Linked DNA regions of Homo sapiens. Each later gene encodes a partner of the first gene's protein in a complex. Each region holds a gene or a part of one and is shown on either strand. Other genes may lie near its edges. The genes, in order: ERCC6L and BEND3. A codon is read from its position in the direction of its gene.

Region 1 (7,542 bases):
CTTCAACAATTATCAACATTTTGCCAATCTTTGTTCATCTGTACTCTCCTTTTTTTTCCCTCTGTACTGGAGTATTTTAATGTAAGTCCCAGATGTCATATCATTTTGTCTGAAAATACTCCAACTTGTATTTCTAACAGATGAGGACCTTAAAAAAAAAAACAGCAATACCATTATCACCCTTTTAAAATTAACAATAATTAGGGAGAGCTTTTTTTGTTTATTTTTTTCTGAGACAGAATTTTGCTCTTGTAGAGGCTGGAGTGCAATGGCATGATCTTGGCTCACTGCAACCTCCGCCTCCTGGCTTCAAGCCATTCTCCTGCCTCAGCCTCTCGAGTAGCTGAGATTACAGGCACCTACCATCATGGCCGGCTAATTTTTGTATTTTAGTAGAGATGGGGTTTCACCATGTTGGCCAGGCTGGTCTTGAACTCCACCCACCTCGACCTCCCAAAGTGCTGGCATTACAGATGTAAGCCACCGCACCCAGCCTAGGAAGAGCTTTTTCCTTTTCTTTTCTTTTCTTTTTGAGATGGAGTCACCCTCTGTCGCCCAGACTGGAGTGCAGTAGTGAGATCTTGGCTCACTGCAACCTCCGCCTCCTGGGTTCAAGCAATTCTCCTGCCTCAGCCTCCCAAGTAGCTGGGATTACAGGTACGTGCCATCACACCCGCTAATTTTTGTATTTTTAGTAGAAACGGGGTTTCACCATGTTGGTCAGGCTGGTCTCGAACTCCTGACCTTGTGATCCGCCCGCCTCGGCCTCCCCAAGTGCTGGGATTACAGGCGTGAGCCACTGAGCCCAGCTGGGAGAGCTTTATAAACCCCATTCCCTTGAGAGACGCTGGGGGAATGGGAGCCCTTGATTGGGGTAGATGCATAATGAGGAACAGCAGATAATTAATCGATGTAAAGTGTTTTGAATGGGGCCTGTCACATAAGAGGGATATAGTAGTAACTATTATTTTGACTCTCTTTGATTCTCTCCATTTACCCACTCAAAATCCTCCCAATCTCTCTCTTATTTTCAGGCTGTGAGCCTGGGTGACCATTTATAAAGGAGGACTAGGAGCCTGGGCTGGGGAGTTTCCTGGGTCATCAGAGCCCTGGGTTGAGACCTGGGACTCCAGAAGGCACCAAGAAGGGCCCAAGGGAAGCAGACTACAGGACCGAAGGGGAGGGGAGGAGCAGCCAGAGCTGGGGAGTTTAAAGGAGGAGCCCTACAGCTGTGTGAAAATGGGGCTTAGAAAATCCAATAGCCAAAGGGCAGGCAAGCCGAGTGTTGGTCCTTCCTTCCCGGTGATCAGGGCCTTTAGGCATCACTGCCAGCTGGGAAGCAGAGAGGAGGTAGCCGGGGTTCCTGAGGGAGTTCTCTTTAGCTTTTCTTCACAGCCCACAATGGGGCATGCCTACAACAACCACCAGGGGCCTGCTTTGCTTCATCTTCAGTTCTCAACAATTCCCCGGATATGAGCGATGATGGTGGACCCTGAGCCAAAGCACAACCAGACATGGCCTTCCCCAGACTCAAGATGAAGATTTTTGTGCTCTCATCTCTCTTTTCCTTTCTGCAGAATTCTCTCCTACATCTTCTCCCCTATTCTGCTCTTCTCATCCTACTCATCCTTTGGGTATCCAGGGCGCCTGGACTCTCAACTCATCCTTAGCTCCTTTGTGCTGCTATAATAAAATGCCATAGACTCAAACTCATATTTTTTTTTTTTGAGACGGAGTTTCGCTCTTGTTGCCCAGGCTGGAGTGCCAATGGCGTGATCTTGGCTCACCACAACCTCCGCCTCCCAGGTTCAAGTGATTCTCCTGCCTCAGCCTCCCAAGTAGCTGGGATTACAGGCATGTGCCACCATGCCCGGCTAATTTTGCATTTTTAGTAGAGACAGGGTTTCTCCGTCAGGCTGGTCTCGAACTCCCGACCTCAGATGATCTGCCCGCCTCAGCCTCCCAAAGGGCGGGATTACAGGCGTGAGCCTCCTCACCTGGCCATCAAACTCATAATTTATAAACAATAGAAATGTATTTATTATGGTTCTGGAGGCTGAAGAGTCCAAGATGAAGGTGCCAGCAGGATTGGTATCTGGTGAGGGCTGCTCTCTGCTTCCAAGATGGTGCCTTGTTGCTGCATCCTCTGGAGGGGAAGGAATAGTGTGTCCTTACATGGTAGGAAAGCAGAAGAGCAAAAAGGGCCTAAACTAGCTCCCTCCAGCCCTTTCATAAGGCACTAATTTATTCATGAAGTAGGATCCCTCATGACATTACTTGCTAAAAGGCCCCGCCTCTCAATGCCACCATGGTGGGGATTAAGTTTCAACACAAGAATTTTGAAGGACATTCAGACCATAGCACAGCCCAATCCAAGCTTGCCTCCAGGAAAAGATGTGATTCAAACACTTTAGCAGAGTAAACAAGTTCCTTCATAACCTGGCCTTCAACTGCCTCATCAACCTCATTTCCCGCCACTGCCCTCTTCTTTCCAGTGTGACACAGCGAAACGGCACAGATTTGTGTCCATATGGACCTAGTATTGAATTCTGGCTCTGCTGCTTCCTAGCTCAGGAAGCTTAGATGAAGTCAATTTATCTCTCTGAGCCTGTTTCCACATCTGAAAAATGTGGATAATAGTATACTAAAAGGCCTCTTAATAAAGGCCTTAAAGTCATACAAACCAGGAAAATAGCCCATGTTCTCCAAGATCCCCCACCTCCCCCCAACCCTTTTCTTTTTTTTGAGATGGAGTCTTGCTCTGTCGCCCAGGCTGGAGTGCAATGGCACGATCTCAGCTCACTGCAACGTCTGCCTCCTGGGTTCAAGCGATTCTTCCACCCCAGCCTCCCGAGAAGCTGGGATTACAGGCACCCGCCACCATGCCCAGCTAATTTTTGTAGAGACGGGGGTTTCACCATTTGGCCAGGCTGGTCTTGAACTCCTGACCTCAGGTGATCCGCCCGCCTCGGCCTCCCAAAGTGCTGGGATTACAGGTTCAGTGAGCCACTGAACCCGGCCTCCAACATTCCTTTTAACTCATAACGGTCTATAAATTTTATGAAAAGCTTAAAATTCTCTGGACATATGATGTATGACTGGGCCAATAGGTGAGTTTTCCAATACTGAATGCTAAATTAGTGTCTTGAGGAGTCATGTCTGTGTTCTTAACAGTATATGAACAAGGACAATTTTTGTTGGCCCACAACCTCCTATTTAGTGTCACCCAAGCAAGCCACTTAAACTCAATCACATTTCCTTAAGCTCTAGGCTCTGCCTTCTTTTTAGGCTCTGCATTTGAAAATGACTGTATCTTAGTTGGTGCTTCTGAAGAAATGATGACCACAGCACTACTTCTTTTTTTTTAAATTATTTTTGTCTTCCTTTTATTATACCAAGTATGTGAACCTAGTTACTTATTTCTTAAATAAGAACTTTAATTTTTTTTTTTTTTTTGAGATGGAGTCTTTCTCTGTCACCCAGGCTGGAGTGCAGTGGCATGATCTTGGCTCACTGCAGCCTCCACCTCCAGGGTTTGAGATTCTTGAAGACCCTTCTCTCTTTCTCTCTCTCTTTTTAAGAAAATAAATACAGCATAACGCCCTGTGGAGAAGAAAAAAATTTTTTTTAAAGAGACGGGAGTCTCACCATGTTGCCCAGGCTGGTCTCGAACTCCTAAGTGCAAGTGATCCTCCCACCTTAGCCTCCCAAAAGGCTAGGATAACAGGCGTGAGGCACTGCACCCAGCCTTTTTTTTTTTTTTTTTTTTTTTTGAGATGGAGTCTCGCTTTGCCACCCAGGCTGGAGTGCAGTGGTGCAATCCCGGCTCACTGCAACCTCCACCTCCTGGGTCCAAGCGATTCTCGTGCCTCAGCCACCCGAGTAGCTGGGACTGCGGGCGCCCGCCACCACGCCCGGCTAATTTTTTGTATTTTTAGTAGAGACGGGGTGTCACCATTTTAGCCAGGTTGGTCTCGAACTCCTGACCTCACGTGATCCGCCCGCCCCGGTCTCCCAAAGTGCTGGGATTACAGGCGTGAACCACCGCGTCTGGTCGCTTCTTCAATGTTAGTTTAAATCACAGGGACTATGCCTCCCAGGGTGTTTGAATTCAAAGCACGGTCAGTGCCAGGTACTGGCGATCAAGGAAGGGAAGATATCTGTGGATGCGGGGCAGGGTATGGTTGGGGGACGCAGGCGTTGGAGATCTCCAGGGGTCGCCGCAATGACTGGGATCATATCGGGCAGTCTCCTCCACTCACAATGATGGCACACGCACGCGCGAACGAATTGGCTGCAGCATGGTTTGAATTGGATTGAAACGCGAGGGATCACAGACTGAGGCAGCACACTCCGTGTCTCGAAGGCAGAGATCACCTTCTGCTTCCCGGCGCGCGTAGGCGCAGGCGCCCACCGTCATGGGCGGGGCTCAGGCGGAGGCGTCGCAGCGCGTGGTCGCGGATTGGCCGGCCGCGAGGCCGTCGGTTGGCTGTGTCCCTCTCCACGGCGCACAGAGCATGCGCGGGGCGGGAGTGAGCGAAATTCAAGCTCCAAACTCTAAGCTCCAAGCTCCAAGCTCCAAGCTCCAAGCTCCAAACTCCCGCCGGGGTAACTGGAACCCAATCCGAGGGTCATGGAGGCATCCCGAAGGTTTCCGGAAGCCGAGGCCTTGAGCCCAGAGCAGGCTGCTCATTACCTAAGGTATGTCTGGACCGCTGGGCGGGTCTAGCTAACCGACCTGGCCCAGGGTGGAGGTGGGGTGGCCCCCGGATCCTCCTGGGGACCCGAACTGTTGAGGCGGAGCCTTTTGAGACGCGCGCTCGCGCTCTTCTCGCAGTAGGGTGTGGGAGTCAGCTCTGGATGTTTGACCAGATTTCTAAAACCTGAGGAGACCCCGATGCCTCTTCTTTTGGGCAAATGACCCTCCAGTATGGTCTCCTTAAAAGCCAGAGGAGCCTTAATTAATCAAGCCCTTCTTGATTCTTTTCAGCTTATCAAGCCCTAAGTCTAGGGGATACAGAGATGAGTAAAACAAGGTCCCCGCCCCCAAATTGTTTGTAATCTAGTAGTGGAAACGGATCTGTAAAGCAATAATTACTAGGTTTGATAAGTGCTGTAAGAGGTATAATGTACGTGCAGGGCACAGTGTTGGCATAAAAGAGGGAATGGCCAACTACAAGGGTGGTCAGCTAAGGGATGGCGTGGCAAGAGGAGACATTTGAGCTAGGCGTTGAAAAATGAGTAAACATTCACCAGTTGGCTAAGGGTGGGGGGCGTGGTAATGTTGGGATGAGAATTTAAATTTTTTCTTAAATTGTGGTAAAGTACACATAACATAAATTTTATCTTTTTGTGCAGAAACTGGGTTTTATGAAAAATAAAGTTTATCATCCTAACCATTTTTAAATGTACAGTTCAGTAGTGTTGACTACATTCATATTGTTGTGCAGCCGTCCGTCATCTCCAGAACTTTTCTCATGTGGCAAAACTGAAACTACTCCCATTAAACAAACTCCCCATTTCCCCCTCCCTTCAGCCCCTAGCAACCATTATTCTGTCTCTGTGAATTTTACTGCTTTAATTTTTTTTGAGACAGGGTCTTGCTGTGTCGCCCAGACTGGAATTCAGTGGCCTGATCATAGTTCACTGCAGCCTCGAACTCCTGGGCTCAAGCAGTCCTCCTGCCCCAGCCTCCCTAGTAGCTGGGACTTAAGGTGGGTGCCACCATGTCCAGCCAATTTATTATTTTACTATTGTTGTTTTATATATATTTTTAGAGACAGGGTCTGGCTCTGTCACCCAGGCTGGAGTGCAGTGGCGCGATCTCTAACTCAGCTCACTGCAACTTCCATCCCCCGGGGCTCATGCGATCCTCCCACCTGTTTCCGGAGTAGCTGGGACCACAGGCGCACACCACCACACCCAGCTATTTTTTTTTTTTCTTTTTTTGATACAGTCTCGCTCTGTCACCCAGGCTGGAGTGCAGTGGCGCGGTCTGGGCTCACAGCAAGCTCCGCCTTCCGGGTTCACGCCATTCTCCTGCCTCAGCCTCCCGAGTAGCTGGGACTACAGGCGCCCGCTAACACACCCGGCTAATTTTTTGTATTTTTGGTAGAGACGGGGTTTCACCGTGTTAGCCGGGATGGTCTCAATCTCCTGACCTCGTGATCCGCCCGCCTCGGCCTCCCAAAGTATTTTTTTTGTGTTTTTAGTAGAGACAGGGTCTCGCCATGTTGCCCAGGCTGGTCTCAAACTCCTGAGTTCAAGCAATCCTCCTGCCTCGGCCTCCCAAAGTGTTGAGATTACAGACGTGGGCCACCATGCCAGGCCTTTCATTTAGATTTTTCCAATTGTTTGCCATTATACTTTTGTTGTAATAGGCAGCCTTTGTGTGAATTTTTGTGCACTTCGTAACTGAGTGTACACTTTGGAATTCCGATTGCTGGGTCTTAGGGAATGTGTATTTAAAATTGCCATTCAAGAAAACCATGCCAGATTTTAATAAAGTCAATAGTGTGAGTAAGCATTTATTTATATTCTCTCAGGCTGGTGTGTGATGAGCTATATGAGTCAATTCAAAAGTTAAGATACATAGTTTTACTTTTGAAGCTAAGACTTGTAGTATTTTCTTCTACAGATACACTTACATGAGTGAGCAAAGATGTGTGTGCGTGTGTATACAGTAAGTCCTCACTTAACATTGTCCATAGGTTCTTGGAAACTGACTTTAAGTGAAATGACGTAGCAAAACCAATTTTTTTCTCATCAGTGTTGCAGCAAAATGATATTGAATGAACCAGTGTCATTCAAGGGCCTGCTGTGTGTCATTTTGCTTAAAGTTGCAGTTGCCAAGAACCTACTGACCACGTTAACTGAGGACTTACTGTACATATAAACATATACCAGAGGTGTGTGCCATGAAGCCCGGCTAATTTTTAAAAGATTTTTGTAGGCTGGGTGCAGTGGCTCATGCCTGTAATCCCAGCACTTTGGGAGGGCGAGGCAGGTGCATCACGAGGTCAGGAGTTCAAGACCAGTCTGGACAACATGGTGAAGCCCCGTCTCTACTAAAAATACAAAAATTAGTCAGATATGGTGGCGGGCACCTGTAATCCCAGCTACTTGGGAGGCTGAGGCAGAATTGCTTCAACCCAGGAGGCGGAGGTTGCAGCGAGCTGAGATGGCGCCACTGCACTCCAGCCTGGGCAACAGAGCAAGACTCCGTCTCAGAAAAAAAAGAAAAAAAAGATTTTTGTAGAGATGAAGTCTCACTGTGTTGCCCAGGCTGGTCTTGAACTCCTAGACTCAAGTGATCCTCCCAACTCAGGCTGCCAAAGCACTGGGATTACAGGTGTGAGCCACCATGCCCAGCAGAATCAGACTTTTTATTACACTTACATTATTACACCACCGTTCAAGCATTCTACTCTCCATCTTCTACCTTACTCCCTCTAGAATACCAATTCCAACAAATGTTTGATATTGTTGGGACCTATAGTTCATTGATTCCATCTTTTCACTGTTGCACACCCCTCAGGTTCT
Region 2 (7,268 bases), on another chromosome or scaffold:
GATGCCATCTTCTTGCTGAAGAACTAATATAATGGGAAAGTTTTATGTGATTCCGCCTACCTTCTCCATGCCCAGCAAGACGATAGGCTGGTTAGGAACTGGCAGATGAGACAGTCAGCATCCCAACAATCTATTAACAGGTGCCATATTGACACATTTTCTTTACATCCTCTCCCTGTGGGTTCTTTCTTGGCTCCTAAGCACCCCTGTGTGAGCAGAAGCATAGCAGAATGTCCAATAATTACAAAGAGAAAAATTGGAGTGAGCCCTGACACAGGTTTGATTAGGTGAAAATGTAATATCCTATATTAATGTCTCACCTGCTACTTTTTAGCGCTGCCTAGAAAGTCCCTGGAAACAATGAGAAGGAAAACAGCATGTTTATATGAATTGTATTGACACCATGATGAAAAGTTTAAAGACCTCAAATTGTATAATGTAGAAGCATAGAGTATGAAGGTCGCTAGCCAACCAGCAAAAATGATTTGGTGTTTGTATATGGGAGGCTGGGATGTAGTGTTTTTTTCCTGGTGCTTAATTTTTTTTTTTTTTTTTTTTTTTTTGAAACGGAGTCTCACTCTGGTGCCCAGGCTGGAGTGCAGTGGCGCGATCTCGGCCCACTGCAACATCCATCTCCTGGGTTCAAGTGATTCTCCTGCCTCAGCCTCCCAAGTAACTGGGATTACAGGTGCGTGGCACCACACCCATCTAATTTTTGTATTTTTAGTAGAGATGGGGTTTCACCTTATTGGCCAGGTTGGTCTTGAACTCCTGACCTCAAGTGATCCACCGGCCTCAGCCTCCCAAAGTGTTAGGATTACAGGTGTAAGCCATCGCGCCTGGCCTGGTGCTTAATTTTGGTGTTAAGTGATAGGTTTTGGTTGCTAACCTAATTGTATTGTTCCCATCATTGGCTAAGGTAAGCTTGGGGAATTAATTGTAGAATTACTCTTTGGAATGGGAAACCTATTCTGTATCTTTTTAGGGGTGTTTATAGGGATGTGTATGTGTTATCTCTCTCTTTTTTTTTTTCTGAGATGCAGTCTCACTCTGTCACCCAGGCTAGAATGCAGTGGCACAATCTCGGCTCAGTGCATCCTACGCCTCCTGGGTTCAAGTGATTCTCCTGCCTCACCCTCCCGAGTAACTGGGATCACAGGCATGCACTACCATACCCGGCTAATTTTTGTATTTTTAGTAGAGACGGGGTTTCACCATGTTGGCCAGGCTGGTCTCAAACTCCTGACCTTAGGTGATCTGCCCACCTCGGCCTCCCGAAGTGCTGAGATTACAGGCGTGAGCCACCACGCCTAGCCTACATGTGTTATCTTTCATAGAATGATACACTCCTAGAGAGTCAATTTTACTCTGGGAATTTTTGAGACAGGGTCTTTCTCTTTCACCCAACCTGGAGTGCAGTGGCACAGTCTAGGCCCATTGCAACCACTGACTCCCGGGCTCAAGCGATCCTCCCACCTCAGCCTCTCAAGTAGCTGGGCCTACAAGTATGCGCCACCACACCTGGCTAATTTTTTATATTTTTAGTAGATACGGGGTTTCACCATGTTGGCCAGGCTGGTCTCGAACTCCTGAGCTCAAGTGATCTACTTGTGTCGGCCTCCCAAAGTGCTGGGATTGCAGGTGTGAGCCACTGCCTGACCGGGATAAATTTTTAAAATGAAACTTAAATGACTGGGTGCAGTGGCTCACACCTGTAGTCCCAGCATTTTGGGAGGCCGAGGTGGGTGGATCACCTGAAGCCAGGAGTTGCAGACCAGCCTGGCCAACATCGCGAAACCTCGTATCTACTAAAAATACAAAAATTAGCCAGGTATGGTGGTGGGTAATCCCAGCTACTCGGGAGGCTGAAGCGGGAGAATCGCTTGAACCTGGGAGGAGGAGGCTGCAGTGAGCCAAGATCGTGCCACACTGCACTCCAGCCTGGGTGACAGAGCAAGACTCTGTCTCAAAAAGAAAAAGAAAGTCACACACAAAAAAATGTGCTAAAAACTGATTTTTTTGGTGCTTTGTATCACCTTGCTCTGACAGTCTCTTTCCTTCTCCAAATTTGATAATGCTCTTCTTCTGCTTCTGATACGTCAGTATTTCTTGCAACATCATTGTTTCAACCCAGAGCTCTTGTGGTTTCTGGGATTAGCTGCCACAAGTTCCCCACACATGTCAAACTAAGAGCTCTCCATGCCAGTATCAGCCCTCAGAGTGTTAAACAGGAGAGGGGCTGTTTTAAGAGTGGCAGTGAATGCTTGGCATGTTAGTCTGTGAATTTTGTATGAAAACCACTTTTACAAACTATTGTTTTAGAGCTGAAGTTTTCTCAGCAGGTCACCTGATACCATGCTCTCCCTCCAGTTTTTGTAAGACAGAGTCTGGCTGTGTTGACCAGGTTGATCTTGAACTCCTAGGCTCAAGCAATGCTTCCGCCTGAGCCTCTTGAGTAGCTGGGACTATGGGTGCACACCACTGTGCCCAGCTTCCTTTTTTTTTTTTTTTTTTGAGTCAGGGTCTCACTCTGTCACCCAGGATGGAGTGCAGTGGCACGATCACAGCTCACTGCAGCTTCAACCTCCTGGGCTCAAACGATCCTCCCACTTCAGCCTCCCAGGTGGCTGGAACTACAGGCCTGTGCCACCATGCCTGGCTGATTTTTTTGAGACGGAGTTTTGCCCTTGTTGCCCAGGCTGGAGTGCAATGGCATGATCCCGGCTCACTGCAACCACCGCCTCCCAGGTTCAAGCAATTCTCCTGCCTCAGCCTCCTGAGTAGCTGGGATTTCAGGTGTCCGCCACTACGCCTGGCTAATTTTTGTATTTTTAGTAGAGACGCGGTTTCTCCATGTTTGCCAGGCTGGTCTCGAACTCCTGACTGCAAGTGATCCGTCCGCCTCAGCCTCCCAAAGTGCTGGGGCTACAGGCGTGAGCGACCGTGCCGGCAATTTTTTTGTATTTTTTATAGAGATGGGGATTCACTGTATTGCCCAGGCTGGTCTCAAACTCCTGGAGTCAAGTGTTCCAACCTGTCTTTGGCTGAGATTACAGGTGTAAGCCACTATGCCTGCCCCACCTCGATTTTTTTTTTTTTTTTGAGACAGAGTCTTGCTCTGTCACCCAGGCTGGAGTGCAACGGCACTATCTCAGCTCATTGGACCCTCCATCTCCCAGGTTCAAGGATTCTCTTGCCTCAGCCTCCTAAATAGCTGGGATTACAGGCCCGTGCCACCATACCCAGCTAATTTTTGTATTTTTAGTAGAGACGGGGTTTTGTCATGTTGGCCAGGCTGGTCTCTCAACCTCAGGTGATCTTCCCACCTCGGCCTCCCAAAGTGATGGGATTACAGGCATGAGCCACCACGCCCAGACCGCCCCCCGCCCCCACCAATTTTTAATCCAAGTTGAAACGTGTATTTAAAGTCAGCCCTCTTGGCTGGATGTGGTGGCTCATACCTGTAATCCCAGCACCTTAGGAGGCTGAGGCGGGTGGATCTCTTGAGGCCAGGAGTTCGAGACCAGCCTGGCCAACATGGCCAAACCCCATCTCTAGTGAAAAATACAAAAATTAGCCAGGTGTGGTGGCACATGACTGTTGTCCCAGCTACTCGGGAGGCTGAGACAGGAGAATTGCTTGAACGCGGGATGCAGAGTTGCAGAGAGCCGAGGTCGCACCACTGCACTCCATCCTGGGCAACAGAGCGAGACTCCATCTCAAATCAATCAATCAATCAACCCTCTTAATTTTTTTTCTACCTGTGGCCACCTCTCCTCTTGTCTGATTTTCAGTTATTTCTGACTAGTGAAACACAGTTGCATCAGTATCAGGGCATTGATTGCTCAATTGAATAAGTCATTTACTGGCCTTTTCTTGTATGTCAGGGGCTGTTTTGGTTTGAGCATGGAGCTAGCAGAGCGAAGGACTGAGGCTTGCTTAGGATTGGGGGTGCAGTATACACCCAACTGCCCCGAACCCTAATCAGCTTGTGTGGTCACAAAATAAAACACTTGATAAAATGGGAAGTGCAGCGGAAACTCAGCTTATACCTCCTAGGAAAATTAGTCACCGTTGTGCAGTCAGTCACATGGCTGGATGCTGGAATGTGCGGTCCCTCCTTCCACCTTGAGCCTCAGCTTCTGCATGCCAAGGTTAATACGCAGAGTCTCCTGTGAGCCATGTGAGGAGGTAGCCCTCCACGAGGTTGGGGAGAACGTAAGTGGAACTTCTTAGCTGAGGAAGATGGCACATTTACTCAAGACTCAGAAGACGCAAGTGACCAAAGATTAAGACGCCAAATCACAGGCGCGCGGGCAGGGTTGTGCGGCTGTGCTTGGCTGCATGCGGAAGATGAGGTTGTGCTCTGACTGAATAAGGAAGGCAGCTACAATTACAGCTTTAGAAAAACTCTGGGGAAAATTGCCCTGGTTTTGTGAGGACTGGTATTTTTCAAACTGCATTTGCAGATGTGCCTAAAAATAAAAACAAATTGCGAACATGTCCTGCAAGTCCCTTGGGCAGGATGCCACTGCCAAGGGGGCTGGGTCCTGAGACCCTTGAGGCTCCCAGCCGGTCCTGTGAACCCAGAGACCCGCGGCACCAGAGTGGATGGCATGGGAACATTCCTCCTGTCCTCAGGGAGAGCATTTTATTTGGTTTCATCCCCCTCCCTCCAGTTTCTATGTTTCATTGGAAAGAAAAGTTACTAAACCTTTTTAATCTTTTAAGCCATTTTATTTAATTTGCAGTTCTTAAAAATTCACTATTAAAATGTACTTTAGGCTGGGCGGGATGGCTCACACCTGTAATCCCAGAACTTTGGGAGGCCAAGGCAGGTGGAACTTTGAAGCCAGGAGTTCAAGGCCATCCTGGCCAACATGGTAAAACCCCGTCTCTACTGAAAATACAGAAATTAATCAGGCATGGTGGTGCCCACCTGTAATCCCAGCTGCTTGGGAGGCTGAGGCAGGAGAATCGCTTGAACCCAGGAGGCAAAGGTTGCAGTGAGCCAAGATTGTGCCACTGCACTCCAGCCTGGGCGACAGAATGAGACTTTGTCTCAAAAAAATAAAAAAATAAAATGCACTTTAAACATCTTTTCCTTAAAAAAAAAAAAAGAAGCTTTATAATAGGTAACTTTGAGTGCTATGTGTCAGACACTTTCTCCTTTGTAGTTTTCACAAAAACTTTTTGAGGTGAGGTAGATGTGTCCAGCTCCTATTACAGAATACAGCTTGGATGGGTAGGTAAACAGCTGGCCTGGTGTTAGATGCTAAATATTTTAACTCGGTTAAAAACCTTTTTGGGCTGGGTGCAGTGGCTCATACCTGTAATCTCAGCACTTTGGGAGGCCGAGGCGGGTGGATCAGCTGAGGTCAGGAGTTCCAGACCAGCTGGGCCAACATGGTGAAACTCTGTCTCTACTAAAAATACAAAAATTAGCCGGATGTGGTGGTGCATGCCTGTAATCCCAGATACTTGGGAGGCTGGGGCAGGAGTATCACTTGAACCCGGGAGGCAGAGGTTGCAGTGAGCCGAAATTGTGCCACTGCACTCCAGTCTGGGCGACAGAGCGAGACTCCGTCTCAAAAAAAAAAAAAAAAAAGCCCTCTTTGAAAACTGGGCTGGGTTAAGGGTCAGGTGTGGTGGCTTGCATCTGAAATCCCAGCACTTTGGGAGGCTGAGGCCGGAGGGTTGCTGGAAGCCCGGAGTTTGAGACCATTTTGGGCAACACCTGGAGACCCTGTCTCTACAAAAAATAAAAAATTAGCTGGGTGTGGTGGCGTGCACCTATAGTCCTAGCTACTCACAGGCTGAGATGGGAGAATCATCTGAGCCCAGGAGTTCAAGGCTACAGTGAGCTCTGATCATACTGCTGCACTCTGCCTGGGTAACAGAGCAAGACCCCCATCTCTGGGGAAAAAAAAAATGAAAAAACTGGATTAAAAGCCAGGGTTTCATGCAGTTCCATCTGACTCCAAAGTTTAGTAAAGAATTCCATTTTTTGGAGGGTCACCTGCACTAATTCCTGCCTTGGTCACAGACTGGCCCATCTGGCTTGTTGACTTGCTCATGCACCTGCACCCAGCTCACAGCTTAGCAGGAAGAGGGAAAGAAAGCTGGGAGGTCATGGCCCATTCCTCAGTCCCAGCTTCCTTGGAAGGCTGGAATGAAGCTCTCATGCCGGGAGTCTCCTGAAGTCCTTCCTACTCCCTGGTCTCAGCTGCATCCCTTGGGCAGCACAAATCACCCCACCCCCGCCCCGTTCCCTATCTGCACAAGAAGCAGTGCTGGTGGGGACTGTGTGGGTTGACATATGTAACACTTAGAACATGAAGCCTGTGCCACATGAATACTAACTACTGTCCCCCTCTTCTAGGTTTAATTTTTAGAAGTCAATGTCACCTGTAGCAGAGAAGTTCCTTGAAATCAAATCAGACATATGGCAATTGTGAAAAGATTGAAGTAAGGTTTAGGTCTTGGTTAAATTTTTAAAATCCTTGAGTTTGTTTTGTTAATGACTGAGCATATTCTCTCCACTTTACCTTTTGTGTGTGGCAGGGGCCACACAGCCACCATCCCTATTGTTTCAGGTTCCAATCACATTCCTGTTCTGGGGCCCACATTCTCAAGGGAATCTTCTGGTAGTGAGAGTTTGCTTCAGTTTGCATCTGGAAACAGCTCTTAGGGGTAAGGGGGATTTGCCCCTGAGTGGCATGAGGTCAGGGCTGCTGGGGCCAGGTCTTCCTGGACTGGCACCTCAGCACAGTGGCGAGGACATCTCTGATCTAGCAGGGTAAAATCCGGAGTCAGCTGGCTGGAATTTGAACCTCCAGGTTGCAGGAAGCCCAAGTACTTCCCATTTCTGGGCCTGCCGCTTGTCCTGTGTGACTCCCCGGCCCACAGGCCTCTGGCAGCTCTGATTAGGCTCACGCTGCTGTCCCAAAAGACCTGGTCTGTCTGCTCTCTCCACAGCAACTGACTATTCAAAGAACTTGATAGAAAGGTACCCCGGGCCACTCCCAGCCGCCTATGGGTTCACTAGAGAATGTCCTTTTGGAAATCTATGGGCTGGACAGGGAAAAGGCCAGTGATCCTGATCAACCGCCCCCTGCTTAGAAGACCATGTCATCTCCCATCCCAGTTCTTTTTTTTTTTTTTTTTCTTTTTTGAGACAGAGTCTTTCTCTGTCTCCCAGACTGGAGTGCAGTGGCGCGATCTCGGCTCACTGCAACCTCTGTCTCCCAGGTTCAAGCGATTCTCCT

What was found.
Region 2: the proteins of ERCC6L (region 1) and BEND3 are in contact, whole or in part, in a crystal structure (PDB 5JNO), measured with the Homo sapiens proteins. Residues at the interface, in NP_060139.2 of Homo sapiens: Ala10 (codon at 4,661), Glu11 (codon at 4,664), Ala12 (codon at 4,667), Leu13 (codon at 4,670), Ser14 (codon at 4,673), Pro15 (codon at 4,676), Glu16 (codon at 4,679), Ala18 (codon at 4,685), Ala19 (codon at 4,688), Tyr21 (codon at 4,694), Leu22 (codon at 4,697), Arg23, Lys26, Phe51, Pro52, Asn53, Glu54, Lys55; in NP_001073919.1 of Homo sapiens: Glu252, Gln255, Ile256, Gln259, Leu261, Asp265, Arg269, Val272, Gln273, Pro276, Phe279, Ser280, Phe335, Arg338, Phe339, Gln342, Glu346.

Annotation. Positions count from the first base shown.
Region 1 is NC_000023.11:72,236,003-72,243,544, reverse strand, and holds the start of ERCC6L (DNA excision repair protein ERCC-6-like), read left to right. Parts: upstream 1-4,517; 5' UTR 4,518-4,633; coding exon 4,634-4,701; intron 4,702-5,596; exon of another isoform or gene 5,597-5,714; intron 5,715-7,542. UniProt on the Homo sapiens protein: DNA helicase that acts as a tension sensor that associates with catenated DNA which is stretched under tension until it is resolved during anaphase. Functions as ATP-dependent DNA translocase. Can promote Holliday junction branch migration (in vitro).
Region 2 is NC_000006.12:107,105,277-107,112,544, reverse strand, and holds part of BEND3 (BEN domain-containing protein 3), read left to right. Parts: intron 1-6,382; exon of another isoform or gene 6,383-6,468; intron 6,469-7,268. UniProt on the Homo sapiens protein: Transcriptional repressor which associates with the NoRC (nucleolar remodeling complex) complex and plays a key role in repressing rDNA transcription.